Linked DNA regions of Homo sapiens: all the other regions are reported to be linked to region 2. The links are microRNA targets in miRTarBase. Many come from high-throughput screens and were not tested one by one. Region 2 holds a microRNA gene; each other region holds the end of a gene's coding sequence.
Evidence for each region. Region 2 holds the annotated microRNA hsa-miR-3665 (AGCAGGUGCGGGGCGGCG, at 2,369-2,386, shown strand). A microRNA usually pairs through its seed, bases 2 to 8, with sites in the 3' UTR of a target mRNA and lowers its output. Matches are read on the target gene's strand: a 7mer-m8 pairs with bases 2 to 8, a 7mer-A1 pairs with bases 2 to 7 and ends in A, and an 8mer does both.

Region 1 (4,219 bases), not on the chromosome of region 2:
GGTCAGGAGTTCGAGACCAGCCTGGCCAACATGGTGAAACCCTGTCTCTACTAAAAATACAAAATTAGCTGGGCGTGGTGGCACACGCCTGTAATCCCAGCTACTTGGGAGGCTGAGGCAGGAGAATCACTTGAACCTGGGAGGCGGTGGTTGCAATGAGCTGAGATCGCGCCACTGCACTCCAGCCTGGGTGACAGAGCGAGACTGTGTCTCAAAAAAGAAAGCGGCGGGGGGCCGGGGGCTATCTCGAGGGATACAGGATAGGCCTGGCCCATCTGCTGGTGGCCACAGACACCAGCCCCTCTGTGTCCCCAGCACTCGGGGAGCAGAGCGGGCGGGGGTCCTGACAGGCTGTGTGTGCCCCGCAGCACGCCCTGCGAATGCTGGCCTTCCGGCAGACCCACAAGGTCCTGGGCATGGATCTCCTGCCGCCCAGACACCGGCTGGGGGCCCGCTTCCGGAAGAGGCAACGGGGACCTGGCGAGGGAGAGGAGGGCGCAGGGGAGAAGAAGCGGGGCCGGCGGGGCGGAGAGGGGCTCGTGTGAGCCGCCTACCTCCCCCACCTGCGGGCCTTTGCATCCCTGCACTCCTGGACGTGTGCGCGCCGACCAATGGCTGCTTCATCCCCGACGTTGGACAATGGTCATTTCCTTTTGAGTAACGCTCTGTAGGTTTCCTTTAAAACACCTGTGCTTCAGACCGGGCACTGTGGCTCATGCCTTTAATCCCAGCACTTTGGGAGGCTGAGTTGCTTGAGCCTGAGAGTTCAAGGCCAGCCCAGACAACAGAGTGAGACCCCCATCTCTCCAAAATATTTTTAAAAATCAGCTTGGCATGGTTGGTGGCCAGGCGCGGTGATTCACGCCTGTAATCCCAGCACTTTGAGAGGCCGAGGTGGGCAGATCGCCTGAGGTCAGGAGTTCGAGACCGGCCTGGTCAACATGGTGAAACCCTGTCTCTAGTAAAAAACACAACAATTAGCCTGGCGTGGTGGTGTGCACCTGTAGTCCCAGCTACTTGGGAGGCTGAGTCCGGAGCCTTGAGGCCAGGAGGGCAGTGAGCTGTGATTGCACCGTGACACTCCAGCCTGGGCAACAGAAGAAGACTTTGTCACTTAAAAGAAATGTTTTTTAACATTTGTGCTTAAATTGTTACAGAAATGACACCATCCAGCCCTGGGAGTGGCACCCCTTCCTCGAGGGCCCCATCCCCCACAGCCAGGGGGGCCAGCAGTACAGCAAGCAGATTCTAAACTCGGGGGCATCTTGCTGGCTCTAAACTCACCTCGTGGTACAGGAAGGGGTTTTAAAATACTTCCTCTGGGCTGCGCATGGTGGCTCACACCTATAATCCCAGCACTTTGGGAGGCCAAGCTTGGTGGATCGCTTGAGCCCAGCGGTTTAAGATCAGTCTGGGCAATATGGTGACACCCCATCTCTACAAAAAATTAGCCAGTTGTGGTGGCCCAAGCCTGTAGTCCCAGCTACTCGGGAGGCTGAGGCCGTAGGATCCCTTGAGCCCAGGAGTTCGAGGCTGCAGCGAGCCGAGATTGCGCTACTGAACTCCAGCCTGGGTTACAGAGCGAGACCCTGTCTCAAAGAAACAAACAAACAAACAAACAAACAAACAAAACTTTCTTTGGATGCGGCTGCGGCATGGATTTGAAATCACGTGGGCAGGCCCTGTTCTGGGGCCCCACCACATGTGCAGGACAAGCCCAGGGGAGCTCCCAGCCGGCATCCCCACGCCCCCAGCCCAGCCTGCTCCAAACAGACCCCCCACCCACCTCCACAGCCAGGATGTCAGCAGGGCCTGAGCCAGGCTCGTCCCCTGTGGGGAGAGCCACAGGGCCAGGTGGACACGCCGACGGGCGATGAGGATCCTGGCTGGGCCTCCCCCGGGAACAGCTGTGCTGGACAGTCAGACCCGGAGCCCAGAGGCACCCCCACCCACCCCCCGCCCCGAGCCCTGTACCACTGAGTGCCTTTCACAGAGAAAACCCACTCTGCCATGTGTCACTGAGGCCTGGATTTGAGCTTCCGTCCTTCCTTCCTCCCTCTCTCCCTGATGTAGGCCTTGGCTGGCCCTGAGGCAGGGGGTCCCCAATCCCCCCTTGTGGTAGCAGGGCCCGGGACCCGTGCCTGGGGGACCCGGGGAGGGGCCGCCGTCTTGTGGATGCTGGCCATGGTGGGCAGGCGCCTCCTGGCACTGATGGATGTGGGGGCACCCCCTTCTGAGTCCCCACCCCAACCTGTTCAAACCTTCCGCTTGGTCAGTTTTTTTTTCTTTGGCCAGCTGCCCAGTGGCATTGAATGAGAAAAGTCCACCTTTGGGCAGATGTGATCTCCAGCCAGTGGCTCAGTTTTGTTTCTCTGTGTTTGAAGGACAGCCTGCATGTGGCTCTGTCTGAATGTCTTTGTAGAGCTACCTGGAAATTGGGAGGCAGGGGGAATAAAGGAAATCATTTGTCTTTTGTGTGAGCCGTGCCGTCCTTCCTGCGGGGTGCAGGTGACCCCAAATGCTGGGCTCTTCACCTCCTTCTCAGGGTCCCGGGTGGGGGTCTCCCAGAAACCCTGCAGCCCAAATGTGGACTGGGAGGGGCCCAAGGGGCTGGCACTGCTCAGTGGCTGCTCCCCAAGGTGTGGGCATCCTCAGGCTGTCCCCTCACAAGGGTCCCCTGGGAACACAGACACACCGGCTGAGAATCATTCATCTCAACGCCTCCCATAACCCAGCTCTCTGCCTCGGTCCTTGAGGGTTCCCCTGGCCCCATCCTAGAGACACACAGTGAGATGCTCTGGAGGCTCCCCGAGGGCTTCCTGGAGGAGGAGGCAACTACGCTGAGTTTGGGAGAGATGCCTCTGCCCACAGAGTGCTTCCCCCGCCACATTCCCAAACCCTCAGAAGGCGGGCGGAGGGTGTTCAGATGCTGAGACCTGGTCACAGTGGAAGAGTTTCGTGACAGTTTCCAGCCCACAGGGCTTCCCTGGCAGTGTTTGGGACGGGGGGCAGGCGGGGAGCAGAGTGGGGAGGAGGCAGATGCAGGGTGGGGGAGGAGGCAGATGCAGGGTGGGGGCGGCGGGACGGGAGTGGCAGGGGCTGGGTGTGCAGGGACCGCTGTTTCAGGCCCAGGCCAAAGGAGGGGGGTGGGGAGCCACCGAGGGGTCCCCTTCTAGCAGGGATTATCTGTCAGCAACAGGAATTGCTGGTTAAGCCTCCCCGGAGGGCAGGCGGCCTCTAGGCCACCGTCCTCCTCCACCTCACACCCTCTCTCCTGCTTTCCACTCTATCCCAGATTTCTTGGGAACTTCACTCCCTTGCTACACACTCCGTCCACACACAGCCCCTCTCTCCGTCAGCATCGCGGCAGCAGCACCGCCATTTGCCCAGGGCTCAAGGTGACAGCCAGCACAACCAGGGAGGCCTCCTGGATTCCTCTGTGCTCCCGGCCAATCCATGAGGATGTCTTGTCAATTCCAGTTCCACCTTTTTTTTTTTTTTTTTTTTTTGAGACAGGGTCTCTGTCTCCCAGGCTGGAGTGCAGCAGCTCGATCTCAGCTCACTGCAACCTCGCCTCCTGAGTTCCAGTGATTATTCCACCTCAGCCACCCGAGTAGCTGGGACTACAGGCCTACATCACCACGCCCAGCTAATTTTTTGTATTTTTAGTAGAGACGGGGTTTCACCATGTTGGCCAGGCTGGTCTCAAACTCCTGACCTCAGGTGATCCGCCCACCTCAGCCTCCCAAAGTGCTGGGATTATAGGCGTGAGCCACCGCGCCTGGCCTATTCCTTGACTTTAAACCATGCATCTTTGAAACGATTTGGTATCTGTCTTCCCCTTGAGAATGTGAACTCTCTGCCTGTCAGGAAGCCTCTCACCATCAATTGGATCACCACTGTATTCCCAGATCTCGGGCAGGCCAGGTGGACGCTAGCAACTGAGTCGGTCTCAGTGCTCAGAGCCACGCTCTGACACCAGAGGACGTGTCTCTTTCTGGTGGTTATGAGAATACCATTTGTCGGCCGGGTGCAGTGGCATGTGCCTGTAATCCCAGCACTTTGGGAGGCCAAGGCGAGCGGATCACTTGAGGTCAGGAGTTCGAGACCAGCCTGGCCCACGTGGTGAAACCCTGTCTCTACTAAAAATACCAAAAATTAGTTGGGTGTGGTGGCGGGCACCTGTAATCCCAGCTACTTGGAAGGCTGAGGCAGGAGA
Region 2 (4,280 bases):
CACCTGGAATTCTAATCTCAGGCTTGTTTTCAGGAAGATTCTCTGCCATTTGTCTCTAGAAACATTTGTAAAGCATCAAGGCTTTGATTTATTCACCTGTGTACTTGTTGAATGAAATAGAACCTGCTTCAACTTTGATTTGCTTCAAACCATCTGAAGAGCTAATATACTAATACCACTAAGTGGGTGATTTCTGTTAAAGTTGATTATTTCAATGCTATTTGGACAAAATTAAACTATAAAAAGAAAGCCTAGGTACCAAAATGCTAGTAATAGGATGCTAACTAAATATGACAGAAATCCATTCAAAAGAAGGAAAGTTATTAATAGATTACTAATCTCATATTTACAAACAATATCACAATAAATTTTAAAATGCAAATATTTTAAGCATAAAACTGATCCCATATATCTCCCCATCAAAAATGTAAACAAGTTTCCTTCCACTGTTTACATACATACCATCAGAAAAGGCTAAGTAGGGACTAAATCAACCTAAAATAATTTGAAAGTGGCATAAGGGCTGAGAGTTATTAGTGAAATCTAAGGACCATCATGAGAGCATTTTCTAGTACCACATTCAGACTGAAACTGAGATTACTTTACAGAAATAAGGGTGCAGCTTTGAAAAAATGGCTTAAAGTTCCCAAAAGTGATGAGTTGTTTGATTTTTTTACACCTTGAGCTACCTGCACAGCTGCCAAAAAGTATTAAGGTGGATGATGAATACACCTCTGAAAGGCTTACTGTAACTCCATATATTTTGATTCTTGAATGAAACCAATTAACTAATGTACTTTACAGTTAGAGCTCTCACATGACAGAGTGTAAGGGAAAAGGAACACTGCAGTTCCCAATAGGAAACCAGTAAGGATCTCCATTTCCCAATCCCTTCCATGCAATCATGCAACAGAGACACAAAGAAAGTAATGAAAACACAGCTTGGAAAAACAGAAAGGGTCCTACATAAAAAGGACCTAAAGTAAAGAAGGACTACAGCAAGCCTCCCCCTAAAGTTACTCATTCATGGAAAGTAGACAGTGCTAACCAGATGTCAACTGAATAAATGCTGTCAGCCTCAAGTTTTCTGATAACCAAGCTAAAAAGTTTCCAAGAAATAAGAAAATAAGGCTTCTCTAATCTCACTTTTCTTCTACAGTTTAATTTAAAAAATTAAAGACAGTTCGTTGGTTCCTAGGTAAAAAAATAAATAAATAAATAAAAAAGTCCCTCCCACCTGTTCATTCCACTCCAAGAAAAGTCCTCTTTATTGGCACTATTTATGGGAAAGCCAGTGAGGTCACCCCATTTTAAAAAGCAAGTCAGTCTCTGAAAATAAGATTTCAATGAAAATGCAACGCAAAAGGGCACACGACTGCAAAATTCAAACAGCAAGAACGAACCTCTCTATAAAGAGAGATCCATCACTGCGCGGCTTCCGATGCCACCCGAGGAGGAAGAGCACGCAAATCCTGTCCAGCGTTCGTTTAAAACGAAAGAACAGTAACAGTCGCAGACAGAGGCCAACCCCTACCATCCCCCGTCATCCCTCCGAAAACACTGGGGAAAAGAGCAGCACTGAGCAAAAAGACAAGATGACATGGATTTTGCACTTAATGCTAACGAGGAGCTTGGGACCCAACAATCAGCAAATAGCAGAACCCATGGCAGATGGGGGGAAGGGGGGGCCGGTTCATCCGCAGTCGGAGCGATTAGAAAACAGGTTTCTGCCTTCATGAGAAGCCTCATCGTGGGAAGTGTCACCGCCTGGCTCAACACCTGCTGGGTCGGCCCCTCCGGGAGCCGCGGGGAGTCACCCCGGCTGCCGCGAGGGGACCCCCGTCCGCCCCCCGCCCCCGCTCCCCGGTGCCCGAAGCCCCCGAGGCCAGGGTCTCGGGGAAGGAGCGGAGCCAGGCAGTACCAGGTGTAGTCGTCCTCGTCCCGCCAGGCGGCTACGCTCTCCAGATCCAGCAATTCCACCTCGTCCAGCAGCGTGGGGGGCGGCGAGGGCGGCGCTGCAGCTGCCCCTGGCGGCGTCCCCGCGCCCCCCGGCTCCGGCCCGCCACCGCCCGCGCCGAAGAAGCCTGCTGCCGGCTTGAAGTAGACGAAGGGCGCCTCGGGTGGCTGCGCCAGGCTGCAAAGCAGGGAGGGCGCGGGGCTAGGCAGGCAGAAGGTGCCCGGGAACGCGGGGCTGGAGCCACCGCCGCTGCCACTACCGCTGCCGCCACCGCCCCCCGCGCCCAGCGCCAGCCCGAGCCCCAGGCCCCCTGAGGCCGCGGCGGTGGCCGTGGCGGCCGGGGGGCTCCGAGGACCCAAAGGCTGCAGGCCAGCGGGGGGCGGCGCGGCGGGCGGCGGCGGCGGCAGCAGCAGCAGGTGCGGGGCGGCGGCCGCGCTGGCCGCTCGACTCCGCAGCTGCTCGTTCTGCTTCTCCAGCTTGCGCACCAGCTCCTGCAGCTTCTTCACCTCCAGCTCCGCGTTCACCACCGGCCCGGAGCCCGCTCCAGAGCTGACCCCTGCCGAGGCGCATTTCACCTGCTCCGCCATCATCGTGGGCCCCGAGGGCGCCGCGGCCGCCGGGGAGTGCGCGCCGCCGCGCCGGCTCCTCGGGCCACGGGGAGGCTACGGCTCCTTCCCTGTCGCCCCGGCCTGGGGGGCCGACCACGCGCGGGCTGAGGCCGAGCCGGCGGTTCGCATCAGCACCGGGCCCTCGCCTCCGGCCGCGGCAGCCACCACCGAGCTGATCTGCACATGCTCAGTGCGTCCCTCCAGTCCCCTGGGCGTCGCGGCGGCTCCGGGTTTTAGCCGCGGCCCCGGAGCGGGGCGGGGCAAGAGCGCCGAGGGGGCGGGTGGGGGGGGGGGGGCGGAGAACCGTGGGGAAGCCCACCCAGGGGGCGGGGCCGGCAGCCCGGGTTGGGGCCGGGGAGCCGCACCCACCCTCGCTACCTAATCCCAGGGGCCTGATTGGACCTGGCCTGAACTTTCCCGCCACAAGCACCTCCTCCTGCCGCTTGGTGGGACAGTGAACTGCGCGGGTCTCTGAGGCGGTTGCGGGGACCAGGGGGTTCCCAAAGAAGCAGCTGCAGGTGCTGGCCCTCGAGTAGTGCACCACCGGCCCGCTGGTTTGCTCCCTTCCCAGCTCTCTGTTAGGCTCCGTGACAGCACTTAATAGCCACTGGCTAACGAATCCTATAGAAAACTTAAAGGCTGGGGATCGTTATTCTAAAAACCGAAAAGTGGAGATAGGGGGAACAGAAAGGCTTTGGGACCATGCCACTCATGTTCTCATTGGTAATAGAGAAGCAAAATGGTGGGAGACAGGAGACCGAGAAGAAAGAGAAGAAAGCCCTCTCTCTAAGAGGTAGAGTGGCCAGCTGCTAAGGAGACAAGTGTTTACTTATTTATTCTAAAATAGTCAAATTTGAACTGTTACCATCATTGTTTGTCACAATAAAAGAAGAACTGCTTTTTTTTTCATACTATGTATATTCATGCATTCCCCAAACAAAAGATCTTTGAGCACCTACTCTGTGCCAGGAACCATTCTAAGAGCTCGTGATGCGGGCAATGAGTACAATAGGCAAAAATGGTTATGGGGAGAAATATGAGTAAAATTGTTTAGTGCTCCTTCTATTAAATAATGTGTAAGTTATTAAAGTCAGACTTGCTGGTGGGAAAGCAGAAAACAGAAAACCTCAGAATTCTACCCAATACACTTTAATCTCACCTGCAAACCTGCTATTTCTTACCACTTGGAAAACGAGCAAATCTGCTTTTTTTAAAAGAGGCTTTTAAGCAGAAGAATTTAATCGAGTTGTGTTCAATGAATACTGACTGACTTAGCATTTTGAGTGTTTAACACAATCAGAGGAAAACCTGAGATTATATTATGAGAAAAATCTACACCACTGGTTCTCATCCTCAGATGATATACTATCTAGTGAAAGTCCTTGCTAGGGACTTTACATACCAATCTTTGTGACAATGTACCTCATTTCTCTGGAGCTGCTAACACATCGTATCTATTGGTTTCAGATATGGTTTTGTGTCTTCCTGCTCAGAAACACTTGTATCTTCTCAGTTGTTAATCTACATCTCTAGCTTCTGTGTGCAGGGTGGATGTTCTGCATTTAACATGCTTGGTGAGCGCTTCCATAAATTAGCTAAATGCGTGTGATGACTCCCTTAACCTTCCCTGTGTCCCAGCTTGCTAGCCCACCACCTAACCACCTGTATCACCCATCACCTTTCCAAGTTTCGGTATATCTTTAGGATTTTTTTTG
Region 3 (4,280 bases), not on the chromosome of region 2:
ATGTTCTCTCAGCCCTTCTGGGGTCAAGTCTGGGCCCTGGCAGGTATCAGACAACCTCATTTGTGACTTAGGCCTCAAGCACTCTCTTGTGACTCTTCTCTTGGGGTTGGTATTTCCCCTTCTCCGCAGGAGATGGAAGTGAACATGAGGGGGATACCCCTGAACTAGAAGCAGAACCTCCCAGAATGTTATCCAGCGTGTCTGAAGATACTGTTCTCTGGAACCCGGAGCATGATGAGAGCTGGGATTCCATGCCCAGCAGCTCCAGAGGAATGCTCCTGGGGCCCCCTTTTCTTCAGGAAGATAGTTTCTCAAACCTGCTGTGTAGCACAGAGATGGATTCCCTGTTAAGACCCCACACATGCCCCCAGTGTGGGAAACAGTTTGTATGGGGTTCCCACCTTGCCAGGCATCAACAAACACACACTGGGGAGAGACCCTACAGCTGCCTCAAGTGTGAGAAGACCTTTGGGCGAAGACATCACCTCATCAGGCACCAGAAAACCCACCTACATGACAAGACCAGCAGGTGCTCTGAGTGTGGTAAGAATTTCCGATGCAACTCCCATCTGGCCAGCCACCAGAGAGTGCATGCAGAAGGCAAATCCTGCAAAGGCCAAGAGGTTGGAGAGAGCCCTGGCACAAGGAAACGGCAGCGTGCCCCACCAGTGCCAAAGTGTCACGTGTGCACTGAATGTGGGAAGAGCTTTGGCCGAAGGCACCACCTTGTGAGACACTGGCTGACCCACACTGGGGAGAAGCCCTTCCAGTGCCCTCGCTGTGAGAAGAGCTTTGGCCGAAAACATCACCTGGACAGGCACCTGCTCACCCACCAGGGACAAAGTCCCCGGAACAGCTGGGACAGAGGAACATCTGTCTTTTGAAATCTGTTTCCACTACAGCTATGGTCAAGTCTATCAGCCGGTGCTACCAGGAGTCACTGCCAGGGCTGCCGTTCTCCTGAACCCCAGTGGCCAGAATCATAAGCCCTGACCCCATCCCTAGAAAGATGAGGTCCCAGCAATGGCCAGAGCATTTCTCACCAGTTCTGTGAGATAGCACATAAAAATAGAGTTCTTTGGGCAAAACTTTTGGGAAGCAATGCATCCTACATGGGCTGATATTCAGCCTGAGCTGTTCTCAAGAGGAGAGTGGTACTGGCAGTTTATGGCTGAAATCCATTCTGATTGGTTGGAGTCTATGCTATACCAGTTGTTAAACATTTTGAGTATCACTCTTGCATACTGTTACTATTATATTTTCTCTATATATAGACAGAAAGGCCATTTTAGAATATTAAAGGCTCTGAAAATTTCTGCAGTAGACCCAACTGAAGGTTCTATTAAGGCAGTGTTTCCTAAATGTATTTGACCTCAGTATCCTTTCTATTTACATCCCACAGAACTGGTGACTATGAAACACTCTGGTGAACACTGGGTTAGAGAGTAACAAGGAAACAAGAGATAGTGATCAGGCATCCAGAGCCCCCTTTTTTATCCATATGAAAGCCAGGGGGGCCAGACCTTGTTCATGTGTGGGTCTGTCTTCCTTATGCCAATCAGCAGTATATACATCACCTCTCACCCTCACCTGCTGAAAAAATAACCTTTTTACCCATTATTCCTACTCCCTTCATCCTGCACATACATATATCCAGCTGAGAGATCACACTACAAGGCTAAGAGATGATCTAATACCCCCAAATAGCCCTGGCCCACACAGAAAAACAGAAAAACAAAAAAAACTTTATCCCCTTGAACAGTCCCCTCTCTCCTCTTGACTGTCTTTATGTGTCTGTGTATTTGTGTGCAGGGTCTTTGAAGACAGCATGCTATGTGCAAACTGTACAAGCTAGGTTTTCTAGGGGCTGTGTTCTGGGGATGAGGGTAGTGGGGATTATATGGGGTTTTTTCTTTGTTTCAAGACAGGAAGCAGTCTGGTTAAGGGAGAACTAGTGGAAAGGGTTAAATGACAGGTTAAGTTGAGTACAAAGCTTTCCCAGTACTGCTGAGATTAAGACAATTGTGGATGTGTATGTCTAGGTTTGAATCTCTGGGCTGCAGATTGCTTTTGCCCTGGCAGAGAAAGAGGAGTCTTTGGGGAGGTGAGCTGTTTCTTGTTGATTTCAGGCAAGAGGCACATAGAAACTTTGTATTGAGTGGGGATTTTGTTTTAAGTGCTGGAAAATTAGGGCAGGAATTACGTGTTTGCAAGTTGTTGCCATCACTGGTTTGAATTTGACTGCCTCATCAAGGGGCAAGAGTTATTCTTGAAGATCTCATTCTCCCAGAAACAGAACTTTAGGGAAAATGGCTGTGGCTTAGCTTTTCAGCTGCTGCAGGGTAATAAGCTTTCTGGTTGGTTTTCCTTCCAATTCTGGAAAGGTGTCCACACTAAGACCCTTAACTCTAGGGCTTGCATAAGTATTCTAGCATCGTTAGCTAATGAGTTGGTCATTGTTTCTCTTTATCAATAATTGTGTTAATACCAATCTTATAATTTAAAAATTATCTTGTATGTAAGAGCAGTTCGGGGTTAGGGAGGAAGAGGAGCAAAGTGGGATATTTTCTCTTTAATGCTTAGATACTGTTTCTTCCCTAAGATGTGTTTCTCAACCACAATTGGTGGAATGAACCAGAGAGGCAAGAGGAAGTGAATTGCACCAATTTAGTTTAGCGACTGTGCCTTTTGCAGGAAAAACTGGGTGAATCACAGCTCCTCAGAGTCCTGGACTCAACTAGAATTGAAGATAGACTTATTTTGCTGACTGGGCTTCTTAGAGTTTATGTGACTTGAACAGCTTGGCCCCTGCCTCCCTTCTGCTACTGTGAGCAGCCTTCCTTCTTCCTTCATTCTTCCTGGAATGCAGTTCTCTTGCTTATGATCCTATGAATAAGGCAAAATGGCTGGTCTTTGTAAGGCAGGTCTTGCCCTAGCTTCTCAGAAACAGGAGCATTTTAGGATCAGTATTAGGAGATGCCCCAGGGAGTAAGAAAGTATTGGGTTCAGTGATAAATCTGGACTCTGACATTTCTTTTACTCTCCCTCTTTAATACTAAAAGCTCTGCATAAGCAATGGTTCAGAACCTGTCTTGGGTACAGACCTGTTGAATCTGACAGAAACCAGAAACGCACTTTTGAGAAAAAGACATTTGTAATTCACTCAGTTTTCCATACACATTTAGCAGGTTCAAAGCCCATCTGTGGAATCCCTAAACTGCCTTCAAAGAAAGGGAGTTCCCCGATCTAAAATGGTCATTATATATTTGTGTCAAGAATTAGAAGGCAAGGGTCACTAAATATTTTAAGGATTAAGGTACCAGAGGCATCAGTGGTATAAGGATGGAGTCTGGTCTTTAATTACGACAAGGGTATTGCTTACATTCTACTCTCTGGTTTTCAAAAAGATCTGACATGCTGACAAATCCAGCTCCTCACAAATCTTGTTTGAAGGACTTGTGGGAAGTGATATTCCTTACTATTAGATCACGCCCCTTATAACTACATGTTAACATCCAGCCTTTTATCTGTTTGAGTAATTGTAGGGATAGAAAGTGAAGCCCCCAGAGTTAGGTGCAAGTATAGCACCCAGCTGAAAGGCATCATGGAGTCTAAGGGCCTTCTACAGAAGGGGCAATCCTTTGGGTTATTTCTGGTGTACCACTGTCTTCTCTACCTCGGTCCAACACCACCTCTCTTGGACAAAAAATAAAACAAGCAACAGCCATCAGATGAGTGAATAGATTTGAATGATTTTTCCCACAGGGAATCAGCCTCAAATGTTCATGTTTCACCCCGTCCCCTTTAAATAAAAAGAATCTCTGTGTTCTCTTTGGGCAAAATGTAAAACAGGGATATCATCTTCAGGAACCTGTCACATTTTTCCATCTGGTACCTCCACCCTATTCTGAGTATCCTCCCCTTTCCACCCCAACATAGTATCTTTCAAAGAATCCCTTGCATAGGAGACTGTAACCGAAAGTGTTAGCTTTTCACCAGGCTATTTACACTTTACGCCTTAGTTCTAATTGTGGAAGGAAAAACTTTTCCCTTGTCAAAGTAATGTTATGGCTTCAGAGAACCAAAGAGGTGATAATTTGGGACAAAATTCCTCCCTTTCCAACATTCCTGCAATCAAATCACTGTTTCCTATTTCCATCAAGGGCAGGTCCTGACTCAGACCTACAAAGGCCAGAAGGCCAGTTCTTTCCATCTCTGAATTAGGATGCATGCACTGAATGGGAGTGGGTGGGGCTGGGCAATATCAGAAAAGTGAAATC
Region 4 (4,280 bases), not on the chromosome of region 2:
TGAAGAGACCACACCTCCTAGTTGGCTCAGGACAATCCCAGTTTATGTCGTTGTCCCAGTGTAATTATTAATGGCATCCTTTTTCATATCCATGAATTATTTGGCCCCCTTAGACATAGGGGACAGTCCAAGAAGGCCCAAACTTTGAAAGAGAAAGCAGATTCTGCCGGAGTTGTCATAAGGAGTTGCTTATAAGATGTAGACGGTTCTGCAATCCAATGGGTTCCTCCTTGGGCGTCACCCCCAGAGTCTGCCTGCATCCCATGTTCCCTGGCCATACATGCTGATCTTGGCGGGTAGAGTTCCCAGCTAGTCCCTTCTGAGGCAGGCTGGACCCAGGTGGGGCCCCTCCCTTTTATATGTCTGTTGACAGGCTCCTCCACCTCACTTCTGGGGGTGCTATTTCAGGTGGCTGGCTGCAAGATGCCCTCAGCAGAGCAAAGTCGGATTGCCCAGCTCCTCAGAGACACCTTCTCTTCAGTGCGACAGGAGCTGGAAGCTGTGGCTGGGGCAGTGCTGTCCAGCCCAGGCAGCAGCCCTGGGGCTGTGGGAGCCGAGCAGACACAGGCCCTGCTGGAGCAATACTCAGAACTGTTGCTTCGAGCCGTGGAACGGCGTATGGAACGCAAACTCTGAGTTCTGGAAGCCTGTCCCAAGTGAATGAATGCTCCAGCGATTCCAAACTGCAGCCCCTCTGCCCCTCACCAAAACCTGCGGGGCTGCTTGGAGTGGAAAGCAGGGAGCAGTGTTCAGAGGCAAAGCAGCCTTCCCAGCCGCTCCTCGTGGGGGGCCTGTATTTATTAATTTATTTCCCTGACTGTTGCCTCACTTCCTTGGAACTCCTGCCTCCACAGCCCCTCCAGTGGCAGGGACAGGTCTTGGGTCTTTGTCATCTTGGTGCTGTGAGAGGTAGGAGGGCAGCCTGCCCCATCTAGGAATCTGGGAAGGGCTGGCCCTCTCTTAGAAGCCATTTGAAATTACTGCAGGGATTAGCTCCCTGTGGTGGAGCATACACAGGGTACTCTGGGGTCGAGGTGAGAGGTGATGTGGTATTCAGTGCCCGTCAGCCAACTGTGGGCCTTCACCTCTACCTGCACTTCCCCTCTCACACCAGCTGCACTCCCGTGGCTGCCAGAGCAGGGTGGTTTTCCCCAATACCTGGAGCTCAGAAAGGCAGAGCCATCTGGCCCTCCAGGGTGTCCCCAGCCATCAGGAGACTTGAGTTGGTATTTGGACCTGAGCCCGCACATTCCACTCCCATTCTCCCTCCAAGAGGGGCCCAGCATTGTATTTCCCTGTGACCCCTTACTCTCCTGGCCAGAACTTGAGCCAGCTGTGGGATGTTGCTGCAGGACAGTAAGCCCTCACCTGGGCAAACATGAAGCTCTGGCCTCCTTTCCTCAGCCCCTTGTTCTTCCCTGTCCTCCACCCTGGACCCCAGCCGGCTGCTGGAGCCCAGAGGCCACCTTCTCCCTGCATCCTGAATGATGCTTAGTCAGAAGCCTGTGTTGGAACATCCCTCGTTTACGGGGCGCTGGCCTACCTCCTGAGGACCTCAGCCACAGATGAGATCACACGCATGCACGTGCACACATGTACACACACACACCTACCTGCACAGCACGCTGTTGAGTGTTGGTTGCTAGAGTATCTGGCTGGCTGCTGTGTGCCTGGTTTCCTCACATCCTGCCTCAGCTTCACCACCCTGGCTTATGTGGAACACCTATCAGGGAGCAGAAAAGGGGTGCAGTACACTAAGTGAACCCAGATTCTGGATTCTTGGTGTCCACAGCCTAGCTGATACGAGATAGCCCATAGGACACCTGGTTTAGGTAGAAGGAGCCTCCTCAAAGGCAGTGCTGGGCACCCACGGGTGTGCTGGATACTGGAGTTTGAGAGGAGGGAGGTGCTGGGGCCAAAGGAGACACTAGAAAAGTGGTAGATGGGACAGGTAAGTGGCAGAGGTGAGGGGATAAGTTAGAATGTAAAAGGGCAGTAATTAGGGGTGAGGGAAAGGAGATAGGGGACCCTAGGAGGTAGAGTGGGACCATGTCGTGAGGCAGTTGAAGAGTTGAGGAAAGGTTTTTCTGGGCCCTACTGCTCCCCTCTGCTGCAGGTAAGTCAGAGCAGCTTTACCACAGCTTCAGGCCACGAGAGCCCCTTCACCCGCCCTGCTGCGCCATAGGCAGAGGCTTATAAAGAAATGGGTTCTGGGCCAGGTGTGGTGGCTCAAGCCTGTAATCCCAGCACTTTGGGAGGCCGAGGCGGGTGGATCACCTGAGGTTAGGAGTTCGAGATCAGCCTGGCCAACATGGTGAAACCCTGTCTACTAAAAATAAAAAAATTAGCTGGGCGTGGTGGTGGGCGCCTGTAATCCCAGCTACTCGGGAGGTTTAGGCAGGAGAATCGCTTGAACCCTGGAGGTGGAGGTGGAGGTTGCAGTGAGCCGAGATCGCGCCATTGCACTCCAACCTAGGTGACAAAGCTACACGCCATCTCAAAAAAAAAAAAGAAAAAGGGTTACAAAAGGTTCCCAGCTCCGGGGCATCAGCCTGAGTGCGCTTGAGCTGCTCCAAACCTGGCCCTTCCCCACTCCTCTAGCATCGCCACCCGCATGGCCCTGGAACTCCCGCGGCGGCGGGGGCGGGCCCGTGCCTGCTGTGCCCCGACTTCCCACACCAGCCGCGCCCACCGCAGGTGGGACTCAGGTTCGCCCTCTGGGCCAGGTCCTTCACGAGGAGGGAGCTACCCTTCGCCAGAAGTTTGTGAGAATGTGGCCGCCCTTTTCCTGCCCTCTGCCCCATGTGGGTGGGGGGCCTCGTGGCCCGGCCGGCGCCCCGTCCCCTTCTGCATGTCTGAGGCCACCGGCAACCGCCGCCCCACTCCAGATTTGCCCCCGCCTTGTTTTGAAAGCCCCTTATTTATAACTTTTATACTTTGTGCAGGTCGCGGCGCTTCCTGCCTCATCCTCGGCTGCATGGGGCGGGGGCGCTGTTTTTAACGTGCCCGTTTGTACTGATGTATGAACTTGTCAATAAACACAATTGTTTGTTAACCCTGGGATGCCGGCCAGTGGGGCAGGCCGAAGCGGGCGCTGCCAGTCGCTCCACCGCTTCGGTGGCAGAACCCGGTGTGTGTCCAGGGGCAGGACGGGGCGGGGTGCTGGGGGTGTGGCCTGCGGCGGGTGCCTCTGGAAGGGCGGGGCGAGGGTCTGGGGGTGTGGCCTGCGGCGGGGACTCTGGGGAGGGCGGGGCGAGTGCTTGGGGTGTGGCCTGCGGCGGGGCGTCGGGGAAAGGCGGGGTCTCGGCCGGCGCTGACGCAGCCATGGCGGAGGCGGCTTTGGAAGCCGTGCGGAGCGAGTTACGAGAATTCCCGGCCGCTGCAAGGGGTGAGTGGCTCTCCCACAGGCTGCGGCGATTTCCGAACACGGGAGGGGCCCTGGGATGCCGCTGACACCGGGGGCTCGGAACCTCGTGTGTGCGACTGCCCTGAGGCCCCGCTCGGGTTGCTCTTCTGTGGCAACCTGCTTCCCTTCTCCCGTGTTCGCGCGCTCCCGCGGCTTCCTGGGTGATTCTGTTCACGTTGTTCCCAAGGCCCGGTGCCGTCTTGACCGTGGTCGCGGCGAAGCCCTGTGTTTCCTACAGTCTTGAGCAGCTTGCTGTTACCCTTGTTGAAAGCTCATCGAAGGCACACAGCTGGTGGTCGGATTCCTCCCCCACGCGCCCCACCTCCGACCTCAACTCCCTTGTCGCACTTTGGGAGGATTGCAGGCTGACCAAATGGTCCCTGGCTCTTCCCCTGCTTGGTTTTTATTCCTTTTCTTTCTTTCTCTCTTCCCTCCTTCCTTCTTTTTTCTATTTTTAAATGATTTCTTACCACTGAACAGCAACACAGGCTCATGTGTATGTGATGGGTATGTAATATACAGTGGTACGCAATGTAAATGAAGCAAGGTTTCCTCCCAGCCCCAGTTTGCATTCTTACAGAAAGATTGTTTATATCCGTGCACACACGACTTTTTACCCTTTTTTTGTACAAATAGTAGCCTGCTAAACACACTCTTCTGCACCGTGTATCTTGGAGATCATTTCACATTCCTCTACCTCAGTCTTTTTCACGTCTGTGTGCTAGTGCTGTATTCACTTAGTCATTTAGGTCATGTCCAATCCGTTGTTTTCAATAATGCTGCAACGAATACTTTGAGGATTGATTTAACAAATACTTATTCAGCATCTCTGTGTGCCAGGCTCTGTTCAGTGTGTTTGAGATACATCACTGAA

Region 1: miRTarBase lists ZFR2 as a target of hsa-miR-3665. Seed matches in the 3' UTR shown: 7mer-m8 at 561-567.
Region 3: the mRNA of ZNF641 is a reported target of hsa-miR-3665. Seed matches in the 3' UTR shown: 7mer-m8 at 1,588-1,594.
Region 4: the mRNA of MAPKBP1 is a reported target of hsa-miR-3665. Seed matches in the 3' UTR shown: 7mer-A1 at 1,090-1,096 and 7mer-A1 at 1,612-1,618.

The regions. Positions count from the first base shown.
Region 1 is chr19:3,802,275-3,806,493 of GRCh38, reverse strand. ZFR2 (zinc finger RNA binding protein 2) reads left to right here. Exons shown (of 19, transcript NM_015174.2): 19 at 369-2,470. The coding sequence ends at 545. Among named protein-coding and RNA genes, the nearest start is that of MATK, 18 kb to the right of the region's middle.
Region 2 is chr13:77,696,181-77,700,460 of GRCh38, reverse strand. MIR3665 (microRNA 3665) reads left to right here and starts at 2,345; the gene lies at 2,345-2,449. SLAIN1 (SLAIN motif family member 1) reads right to left here and starts at 2,774. Exons shown (of 7, transcript NM_001242868.2): 1 at 1,922-2,774. The coding sequence starts at 2,547. RefSeq lists silencers at 1,707-1,856, 2,017-2,256, 2,457-3,016.
Region 3 is chr12:48,339,577-48,343,856 of GRCh38, reverse strand. It overlaps ZNF641 (zinc finger protein 641), which reads left to right. Exons shown (of 6, transcript NM_001172681.2): 6 at 130-4,280. The coding sequence ends at 884. Among named protein-coding and RNA genes, the nearest start is that of ZNF641, 9.2 kb to the left of the region's middle.
Region 4 is chr15:41,824,801-41,829,080 of GRCh38, forward strand. It overlaps MAPKBP1 (mitogen-activated protein kinase binding protein 1), which reads left to right. Exons shown (of 31, transcript NM_014994.3): 31 at 409-3,055. The coding sequence ends at 636. JMJD7-PLA2G4B (JMJD7-PLA2G4B readthrough) reads left to right here and starts at 3,292. Exons shown (of 25, transcript NM_005090.4): 1 at 3,292-3,388. The coding sequence starts at 3,325. It overlaps JMJD7 (jumonji domain containing 7), which reads left to right and starts at 3,292. Exons shown (of 8, transcript NM_001114632.2): 1 at 3,292-3,388. The coding sequence starts at 3,325. RefSeq lists enhancers at 962-1,844, 2,890-3,119, 3,151-3,445 and a silencer at 3,180-3,269.